Regions from separate parts of the Homo sapiens genome. Here region 2 is linked to region 1. The links come from fine-mapping of genetic effects on gene expression. A gene starts in region 1. The other region holds a variant in brackets. All regions are shown on one strand. Distances are from middle to middle. Region 1 holds the start of RPL34-DT (RPL34 divergent transcript). Region 2 overlaps RPL34-DT (RPL34 divergent transcript).

Region 1 (5,382 bases):
TCTCTATGTTGCTCAGGCTGGCAACTTCAGTGGAAGTGCAGTGGTGCAATCTTGGCTCCCTGCAACCTCCACCTCCCAGGCACAAGTGATTCTCGTGCCTCAGCCTCCTGAGTATCTGGGATTACAGGCACCTGTCACCACGCCCAGATAATTTTTGTATTTTTAGTAGAGACGGGGTTTCGCCATGTTGGCCAGGCTGGTCTTGAACTCCTGGCATCAAGCGATCCACCTGCCTTGGCCTCCCAAAGTGCTGGGATTACAGGGATGAGCCACCACACCCGGCCTAAAGAATCTCATTTGTTTTTTTAATCTGTCTTTGTTCTCTGTTCATTAATTTCTGTGTGCACTTAATAAATATTTTACAAATTTTTGTGAAATTAAAATAAGGTGAACCTATCATACTTTTTTTGGCTTGGACTGGGAAACTTTGAGGTTTAACATTTTTTTATTTAAGGGTTTTTTGATAAAAGCTATTAATTGTAATGTGGTCAGATTTATTGGTCTTTTCTGAGTTTGTGCTTTTTGTGCCTTGTTTAAAAAATCCTCTTCTACTCCAACGTCTATAAGATAGTCACCTATATTTCCTAATAAATTAAAGCCTTATTATTGACTCATTTAAGGTTTTTTTTTTCAGTGTAGAGTGACTTAAGGATACAATTTTTTCTTTCCATATGTATAACCATTTTTCCCAACTTCATTTACTGAATAGTCACCAATCTTTCCCCACCAATCTGATATATTACCTTTGTCATATACCAAAGTTTCATACATTTATTATTATTATTATTATTATTGAGATAGGATCTCATTCTGTTGCCCAGGCTGGAGTATGGTGGCACAATCATGGTTCACTGCAGCCTCAAACTTCTAGGCTCAAGTGATCCTCCAGCCTCAGCCTCCTGAGTAGGTGGGACTAAAGGTGTGTGCTACAACACCTGGCTAATTAAAAAAAAAAAATTTGTAGAGATGGGCGTCTCGCTATGTTGCCCAGGCTGATCTTTAACTACAGGTCTCAGTGATCTTTCTGTATCAGCCTCCCGAAGTGCTAGGATTAACAGGCATGGGCCACTGTACCTGGCTGTCTTTGAAGTTTTTAATAAGATTGCCATATCTCTCTCAAGACTGATCAAGAAAAAATGCAAATACAAATTTAAAGAGAGGGAAAAATAGTATTATGGAACTGGGTTAAGTACCTTAAGGGAAAACTACAACAATGAGACCACTATTCTTATCTACTTGGGTGGGGGAAGGCACGGACAGAGACGTAAACAACAGCATAGTGTGCCAAGGGCTCCCATCTCCTGTTCTCTTCTGCTCTGCAAAGTCTCTCTTAAAATATAGAGAACATATTGCAAGTAAATACATTCATTAGTGCATTTATTCAAAAACCACATTTGTCTCTCTATGCAAGCTTCCATCTCAATGCCTGGCACAGAGACGAAAAGGATTTCAGAGGACAAAAATCAAAGGACTGGAAAGGAGGGAAGTAGCTGATGACAAGGTCGGGGGAGAAGCAGCTATTTGAGAGTGAGCAGAGGGAAGGATATAACCAGAGCCTTCCATCTGGTGTTGTGACAAAGATGGCAGTGATGTGAGGCTTGATAGAATCAATAGGCCTCACAGTTCAAGACAGACTACATGCCCTCAGTCACTTGCCTGCTTTCTTGGTTTGCTAGATGGATTAGAAATACTAGAAGGAAAGTTGAGTGGGTACTGGGATATCCTATCCAAATCCTCTCTTCTGGGGCAATGCAGCTGCCTCACAGCAACCACGTTGTGGATCACCTGACCCCGCCTTTCTCAGCTTCCTGGAGGTGCATTCTAAGAGCGCTCCCCATAAGCCAACACTCAAGTCTCTTCGAGGTGTGTTTCCAGGGAGCCTGATCTAAGATTAAAAACTTAAAGGCCCCTTTTAGAATTGTCTTTTACAGCCCAGGCAAAGAGTTCTTTACTTTTTTAGAGGTCATGAATCCCTTTGACAAGGTGATGAAAGCCAGGGACCCTCTTCTCAGAAAAATACACACGTGCGCTTAATGTAAAATTTTACATACTGTTTTAAAGGTTAAACTTTACCACCCATGAAAAGCCTCAAGTAGTTCTTTGTACATAATCATAAGATTAGCAACCATTTACTGAGCACTTCCTCTCTATAAGACCCTGTGCTAAGTGCTTTAACTTCATAATGCCTTTGATCATGACATAACATGGCACGGTAGTTCCTAATATCTTCCTTTTAGAGATTTAAGGGCTTGCTCAAAGTAACATAGCTAATAATTAGCAGACACTGGATTAAAATCCCAATTTGTTTGTAAAGCTTGTGCTCTGAATAAATGACAAGGAAAGAGAAGGGAAGGTTGAAGAAGGGAAGGTTCTTGAAGGTCCCTGGTCCTTGAAGGTCCCTTAACCATAAATGTCAAGAGTTGGGATTTAAACCCAGGTCTAACGCCAGAGCTGGCGCCCTTTAGATTAAAAGTGCAGTGTCCATGACAACGAAAGAAGTTGATTTTGTCCCACCTTTGCTCTTTGCGGCTTTTCATTTGCGTTTGTTTCCACAGCGATTTCCAATAGATTTCTGCGTGGCCTTGACACAGACAGCTAGTGTGAATCCCCGCCCACAGAGGGGCGGCACGTTGGTTGCCGTACAACGTGGTGGTTCCCTGCATCTCTGCCCACGTCGGAGAGGTGCGTCGGCTTCCGTACAACACGGATACTCTCTCTCTGACGCAACTTCCTGTCCTGCGCAATTCTATTTGACCTTTGAACTGGCAAAGGCTTTTTTCTTCCTCTTCCGGGGACGTTGTCTGCAGGTATGGATGTTGTTCTCTTTTCCCTGTCTTTATTTCCTTACCAATCGGCTGCCATCCGAGGAGCTGAGGAAGCCTAGAGCTCTCAGAAGCAGTCCTTTGAGCTGGTGTAGGGGTAAGGGGCACAACAGGGAGGTTGGTGGTGAGGAAGTTCCTTACTTTGATCTTTGGAAATCCCTTGTTCCTGGTGGCACCTCCAAAGCCGTGAGTAGCCACAGCTCACCACCCGGGACTTTGCTGCATTCCAAGTGTAGCGTTTGGAGACTAACGAGTTGTGGTTTGGCGGTTTGAGTCTGGAAAATCGCCAAACGTTTTCATATTTTACACCCACGTTTTCACAGCACGCCTGTACGTGTCCTTAGTCTTTGGGAGGGCAGGGTCCGGCGAGTTCGGGTGGTTTCGCTATTTGGCTTCTGCGTCCAAGGCCCATGTCAAGGAAGAGAAAAATGTGTTAGAAGTTTCTGTCTTGCTTTTGGAGATGCAAACAGAATAATGGCTTCATAAATCACTCGCACTGGTTTTACGTGTCAAGTTTTGGTGTCTGGTAATTCTGTTTTAGTTTAATTTTAGTGAGAGGCTTGTGACAACAAATGAGGTGGTTACAAGGGGTGGAATGGGAAGATTAAATTAGTTCAAGTATTGATTATGTTTTACGTTGGGTAGTTCCCTTAACGAAGTTGCTCGTATGCATATCTGTATAACCGATTTGCTAAATAACATCACGATGTTTCCAGAAGTGGGAAGAAAGCAGGTGCCATAACCCAAAGAAACTTGTGTAATATCAAAATTAGTATTAAAGGGTATGCCTTTACGCAGGTGGTGCTTTAGGGCAAGACATTGAACCCTGATATGTGCCAGGCATTGTGTTGGGACGGATAGCCCACGTCGTTTAATCCTAATGACAGCTGTATAAAGTAGACAGAATTCCCATGTTAGAGATAAGGAGGCTAGCTCCTTGCCCTTTATATTCCCAGTAAATGGCATAGCTAAGGATTCGACTTCAGAGCTCACTTTTTGTGCTCTTTGTTTAAAGCGGTGTTTCTCCAACTGGGCTCGTGGCACTTTTCTGGACACCACTCCAAACAAAATTAGACTCTGAGTAAGGAGCCTGGTCATCAGAACGTTAAGGAAGTGCCACGTTTGATTACCATCAGGAAAGCTAACATTCTTGGCCTCTTGTTTATCAGTCACCTTTAAATACAAGTAGTTTTAAAATGTGGAATAATACATCTTAATTTAAGGGTGTTACATACAAGGATATGTATGTGAATGAAATAGACCACATGATACTGTTTTGAGATTTTATTTACTTTTACAATGGAAAGATTTGATGTTACTCTATTCTTAATTTAGGCACTCAGAATGGTCCAGCGTTTGACATACCGACGTAGGCTTTCCTACAATACAGCCTCTAACAAAACTAGGCTGTAAGTATTTCTGAAAATTTTAAGTATATATTGTCATTTACTCTACAAAATGCTGACCTACTGACTGTTTCACTTTCTAGGTCCCGAACCCCTGGTAATAGAATTGTTTACCTTTATACCAAGAAGGTTGGGAAAGCACCAAAATCTGCATGTGGTGTGTGCCCAGGCAGACTTCGAGGGGTAAGTGTACCTTTTACTGTGTGCAGCCTAACAAGTCTTGAACTTACTGAGCTTTCATCCCTTGACGATGGAATGAATCAAGGAGAGGTTACCACTAAGAGGGTTCAGAATTACTAAACATTCATGAGCCAAATCTGCCACGAACATAGACTTTTTAAACCAATCTGAGAAATGCAGTGAAATGCCTTTCAGATAAATGAGTACACCATTTCCCTTTGTAACCTACTTTAAACTTGCCCTTAACACTTAACAAAATTTAGGGAAATTTCTGTTAAAGCATCACAAAAATCTTAATATTTTTCTTATGCAGGTTCGTGCTGTAAGACCTAAAGTTCTTATGAGATTGTCCAAAACAAAGAAACATGTCAGCAGGGCCTATGGTGGTTCCATGTGTGCTAAATGTGTTCGTGACAGGTAAGTTAAATGCTTAAATGGGCTTTCCTTAGCAAATTATTGTGTGTGTTATACTGTCTGCTGATCAGTACAATGGTGAAGCAACTCATTTTAAACCAGTTGCATGCTTTAGAACCCTTTCTTTGCTATGGATAATTGATGCTGCACAAAGCAGGAAATGATATTCAAAGTAATAATTTGGGGGCATATTTATGCTAGATGTGGAGATTAAAAGGAACTTGGTTTTGTTCAGGAGGTGGGTAAGAAAGTCTCTGTTAGTGGTTTGGACAAAGATAGATGGAGTGTGGAAGGTGTTAAAAGTGTAGGAACAGAAGAGTTGTGTATTCTCATGTGCGGAAGGTGTTAAAAGTGTAGGAACAGAAGAGTTGTGTATTCTCATGAGCATAGGGTTGCAGGAGATGATGGACAACAAAGGTAGAAAAGCCAGATTATGGCCAGGTGTGGTGGCTTATGCCTGAAATCCCAACACTTTGGGAGGCGGAGGCAGGCAGATACCTGAGGTTGGGAGTTTGAGACCAGGCTGACCAACATGGAGAAACACCGTCTCTACTAAAAAT
Region 2 (5,382 bases), 29 kb before region 1:
GAGGGAGACTCCATCTCAAAAAAACATCAAAAACAAACAAACAAAGAAAGTATATTATTGCCTATATTAAAGATCTTGTAGGGTACTAAGATCAAGATTCTGGATATGTTTGGACATTGTTCAGCTGTGGGTTGAAGACTGGGATGAAGGTGCACTGACCTTAGAACTTGCCTTTGTAACTATTACTTTTTATTAAATGACTTATACTGCATTTTTTTTATGATTCCCCTATTTTTCCTGAAAGCCAAGTATAGAAGCTAATTCTAGTTAATTTATGGTTTCATTTAATTAAGTTCCACTTAAATGAGATTTTACTGTAACATGGTCAATTGTATTATGAATTATGAGATTTATTTGGGGCAAAGTTAGCACTTACAGGCTGGAAGAAACCTAATGTCTTTAAAACTTGAAAGAAGAGTCTTCTTAGAACTTATTTTCTGGATGCCACACAGGTCTGCCTCTTTCTGATGAAACCTAATTCCAAGCATCACTTTTTATCTCTAAGAACTCCAGCTCTGATTGTGTCTTTGCTTTGGTGACACCCTGGCGGTTCCTTTCTGTTGCTCAGAATTTGTCAAAAGAATAAGGAAGATCCTGATGAGCTCAGTCTCCCTTACCCACCACTAGGTCAAGCCTCCCTCTCTGAAGAGTCCTTCTCATCCTTATGCCTGCTTCCAGAGTTGGTGGGGTTGGCTTTGGAGCAGGACTTAATTTTGCCTCATTTAAAATCATGTGCTCAATTGCTTTCTTTCTCTTAAATAATGAAAAGCCAGCAAAGAATAGCTTAATGCATAAGGAAAAATGAATTTAGAGAAATTATTCATCTGCCTGTAAATAATAGCTTCATGGATATGAGGTAGCTAATTCTCGACAATATTAGGTGCTCTTTCAATAAAAGCAAGAGAAAGAAAATATCTCAGAAATTTCTTTGTCATGCTTAAAAGTCCTCTGTCCCCCACTCCCCACAATTCCCTGTTTTTTTTTTTAGAAGGGATATTTGTTCTCTCTTATAATCTGGAAATGTATGTGCCTAATTAAAATAAGATGTACTCTTTAAATGATGAAAATAAAAAGTGATCAAAATAGATTTTTGTTATCCTTGGGGCATTGGGAGTTTAAACGCAAACTGCATGGCTTGCAGTGTGGAGAATTAATTATTGGTAATTGAAGTTGTAAGCTTAATTCCCTGCTTGCTTCAATGAAAATGAATCCTTTTATTTAATATTGAAATAAGCACCACTAACCTCATGATCTGAGACAGCACATGCACTCAGCTTTTGAGCAACAGTGAATGTTTAAAAAGCTTTATCTTTTTAACACTGAATTGTGATTAAAACAAAACAAAACAGAAACACCAGCTTGCGGGAGTGGTATAAATACATTAGCAAATAACATAATAGATGGTATTTGGGTACTCTTAATAGATGCTGTTCTTATTCACCAGTAAGAGACTTCATTTTGTATTCAAATAAAAGTCTAAACCATTAAAAAATGCATTTATGCTTTTTGAAAACTTGTCCTGAGTAAAATATTTTCGTTGGCTTGTTTTGTCATGTTGAAGCAGGGTGACCGTTCAAACTGTTGGGCAGAAAAATTTCTCTGCCCTGTGTTTCTGCTGTGAGGAGTTCTTGTCTTCCTGAGGAAGCATTACAGCTAATCATGATGTGGACTTTGCCTCCTGCCCAGTTCTCTTGCTGTGTCTGTGCCCCTCTGTGTCTCAAGGAATGTCTCTGGGTATTTACACTGACTGTTCTGTGACTTAGATCTGGTAGATTTCCAGGCCCCCTATTCTATGCCTGCTCTTTGCCTAATTAACATCTACTCCTCTCTCAGATCTCAACTCAAACATTACACCTGAGATTAAGGCAAGCACTCCTCTCTTATATTCTTACCACAGTAAATCATGTTGCAATTACTTGTTTCATGCTTGTCCGTTCTGCCAGAGCACAAGTTCCAAGAAGGCAGGGTCTGCCTTGTTCACGGGTAGAGGTCCAGTAACTAGTTCAGAGCCTTGCATATATGGGGGATCAAGAAACATGTTTGAGTGAATGAATGAATAAATGAATGAATGGTGAATGAATGTTAATCAAGGTTGGTCTGAGCAACACTTGGCAAAATTCCCAGTTTATAGTCCTGAAGTATCCATAACTCTTACAATACAATTAATAATTCATTTTTCTCATTTTTAAATAGGAAATGAATGGGATTAGTATTTTCTGACTTTCTATTTATTGTACTTCATACTTAGTCCTCAGTCAACATTTCCTAAAAGACAATTTATCCATATTTCAGTAAGTAACATCTGTAATTGTGTAATAAGTAACACAAGAAAAATTAAGCTTGTTGTTTAATGTATTTATTAGAGAAAAACCTAGATATTGAAATTCCTTCAAATGAAACAGTGTTGTTTGAATTTGCTCTCAGTGGAACCTATCATTTCTGACCTAGGAGAGGTCTGTTCTTTAAGCAACCAGCCTCTGTGTCCACAAAGTTTGGTCATGGTTTGTAGAAAACTCCTTTGGGTCAGCTCCAAGGGCCAAGTTTGCTCAGATTGCTCAAACTTTCAAAACTATTTTTCTCAAAAGCACAGGGCTTAAATGAACACTTGTTTGATCTAAATATGGTTTCACATTGTCATGGAGAGAAAATAAAGGAGACAGAAGAACGCTTTGGTCTTTATCTCAGTATCCTGAAACTTCTACTTCATTCATTTTTAAAAAAGGAGCAAAAGTAGATCTAAATGGTTTTCTGGGTTAAGATGGTAGACTAAACCACACATCTAATTTTGCTGCTCTACAAAATTCCATAAAACTTGAGTAAAGTGATTTTCTTGAAAAGGTACAACTCACATGAAAAAAACACAAAAACAAAAAAAAGGAGAAACTAAAAAACAAAGAAAAAACTG[GA/G]AAAAAAAAAAAAAAGGCCGGGCACGGTGGCTCACGCCTCTAATCCCAGCACTTCGGGAGGCTGAGGAGGGCAGATCACTTGAGATCAGGTGCTGGCCAACATGGTGAAACCCCGTTTCTACTAAAAATACATAAATTAGCCAGGCATGGTGGTGGGCGCCTGTAATCCCAGCTGCTTGGGAGGCTGAGGCAGGAGAATCACTTGAACCTGGAAGGCGGAGGTTGCAGTGAGTTAAGATCACACCACTGCACTCCAGCCTAGGTGACAGAGTGAGACTCTGGAAAAAAAAAAAAAGAAGAAGAAAGAAAGAAAGAGAGAAAGAGAGAGAAAGAAAGAAAGAGAGAGAGGGAGGGAGGAAAGAAGGAAGGAAGGAAGAAAGAAAGAAAGAAAAAGAGAGAGAGAGAAGGAAAGAAAGAAAGAAAAGAGAGAGAAGGAAAGAAAGAAAGAAAGAAAGAAAGAAAGAAAGAGAAAGAAAGAAAGAGAGAGAGAGAAGGAAAGAAAGAAAGAGAAAGAAAGAAAAAGAAAGAAAGAAAGAAAGAAAGAAAGAAAGAAAGAAAGAAAGAAAGAAAGAAAAAGAAAGGAAGGAAGGAAGGAAGGAAGGAAGGAAGGAAGGAAGAGAAAAGCAAGCAAGCAAGCACAAGAGAATACAAGGGCAGGAAAATTTTGGAATCTGAAAAGCAGACTGACAACTGGCAGTGCCATATACCCCTACCACTGGTGTAGAGGGGAGGCCAAAATAATGAAGAGGGTAAAATGAGGATTGAATGAAAGCTGTTCCATTGGGTTAAATCTCTATACCTTAACTCACATTGCCCTTTCCTCACCTGATTTATTCTGAGGAGTAAGCGCAGCAGAAGGCCTTTGAAATGCAGGACACGAGATACAATTAAAGATCTATCATCATACCAAACACAGACAGATTGCATGACTGAATGCATATGGAATGCTAAAACCTTTCATCACTTCCTCCACTTGGCTTCCAGAATGCCAGAAGCCTGGTCATTTCCCTTTAGTAAGGAGATCGGAAGAATGTTTTCTGCTAAAAATCTCAACATAGGAGGAAAGTTTTTTGTTTTTTGGGTTTTTTTTTTTTTTTTTTTTGAGATGGAGTCTTGCTCTGTTGCCCAGGCTGGAGTGCAGTGGCGCGATCTCCGCTCACTGAAGCCTCTGGCTCCCAGGTTCAAGCAATTCTCTGCCTCAGCCTCCCAAATAGCTGGGATTACAGGCATGTACCACGACACCCAGCTAATTTTTGTATTTTTAGTAGAGATGGGGTTTCATCATGTTGGCCAGGCTGGTCTTGAACTCCTGGCCTCAAGTGATCTGCCCACCTGGGCCTCCCAAAGTGCTGGGATTACACGCATGAGCCACCATGCCCTGCCAGGAGGAAAGATTTTTTAAATATTGACATTGGAAGTACAAAGAGCCTATCCAGACCACTTGACAGTGACATCCAAAGTAAACAAGCTCCACAGAAGCACCCAGAGCAACCAATTATGATTTAAATCCCTTGTTCTTAATTATAAAGGAAGGATGACAAGATATGGAAGATAAAGACCAAACCAATAAACAAAAGAAAGCAACTTGAAGGAAATAGAGACTATACGGTGGGGGGTGGGGCGGGGGGAAACTCCAACAAAGCTATTCTTTTTTTTTTTTTTTTTTTTTTTGAGACAGGGTCTCATTCTGTTGCCCAGGCTGGAGTTTAGTGGCTCTATCTTGGCTCACTGTAGCTTCGATCTCCTGGGCTCAAGCAATTCTCCCAACTAATCCTCCTGATTAGCCAGGACCACAGGCATGCACCAATATGACCAGCTAATTTTTTTTTATTTAATTTAATTAATTTATATATTTATTTATTTGAGGTAGAGTCTAGCTCTGCCGCCCAGGCTGGAGTGTAGTGGCGTGACCGCAGCTCACTGCAACCTCCGCCTCCCAGGCTCAAGCAATTCTCCTGCCTCACCCTCTCAAGTAAGTGGGATTACAGGCGCATGCAACCACATCCAGCTAATTTTTATATTTTTTTAGTAGAGACGGGGTTTCACCATGTTGGCCAAGTTGGTCTTGAACTCCTGACGTCAAGTGATCTGCCCACCTCGGCCTCCCAAAGTGCTGGGATTACAGGCGTGAGCCACTGTGCCCGGCCACCAGCTAATTTTTGTATTTTTTTTTTTTTTTAATTTTACTTTAAGTTCTGGGATACATGTGCTGAATGTGCAGGCTTGTTACATAGGTATACATGTGCCATGGTGGTTTCCTGCACCTATCAACCTGTAATCTAGGTTTTAAGCCCTGCATGCATTAGGTATTTGTCTTAATGCTCTCTGTCCCCTTTCCCCCGACCTCCAACTTTTGTATTTTTAGAGGAGACAGGGTCTCATCATGTTGCCGAGGCTGCTGTCGAACTCCTGAGCTCAAGCAATCCACGCACCTCGGCTCCCAAAGTGGGCCACCGTGCCTGGCCAAACAAAGCTA

What was found. PIP is the estimated chance that this variant, and not a neighbour inherited with it, causes the effect.
Region 2: its variant is fine-mapped to the expression of RPL34-DT in whole blood (INTERVAL, PIP 0.90).

Annotation. Positions count from the first base shown.
Region 1 is chr4:108,617,794-108,623,175 of GRCh38, forward strand. RPL34-DT (RPL34 divergent transcript) reads right to left here and starts at 2,664. Exons shown (of 4, transcript NR_026968.1): 1 at 2,515-2,664. RPL34 (ribosomal protein L34) reads left to right here and starts at 2,783. Exons shown (of 5, transcript NM_001319236.2): 1 at 2,783-2,807; 2 at 4,158-4,231; 3 at 4,312-4,411; 4 at 4,722-4,825. The coding sequence starts at 4,167. RefSeq lists enhancers at 2,321-3,520, 2,746-2,795.
Region 2 is chr4:108,588,471-108,593,852 of GRCh38, forward strand. The region is part of intron 1 of RPL34-DT (RPL34 divergent transcript); the gene reads right to left. Among named protein-coding and RNA genes, the nearest start is that of RPL34-DT, 29 kb to the right of the region's middle. The variant GA/G (reference allele first, on the strand shown) is at 2,906.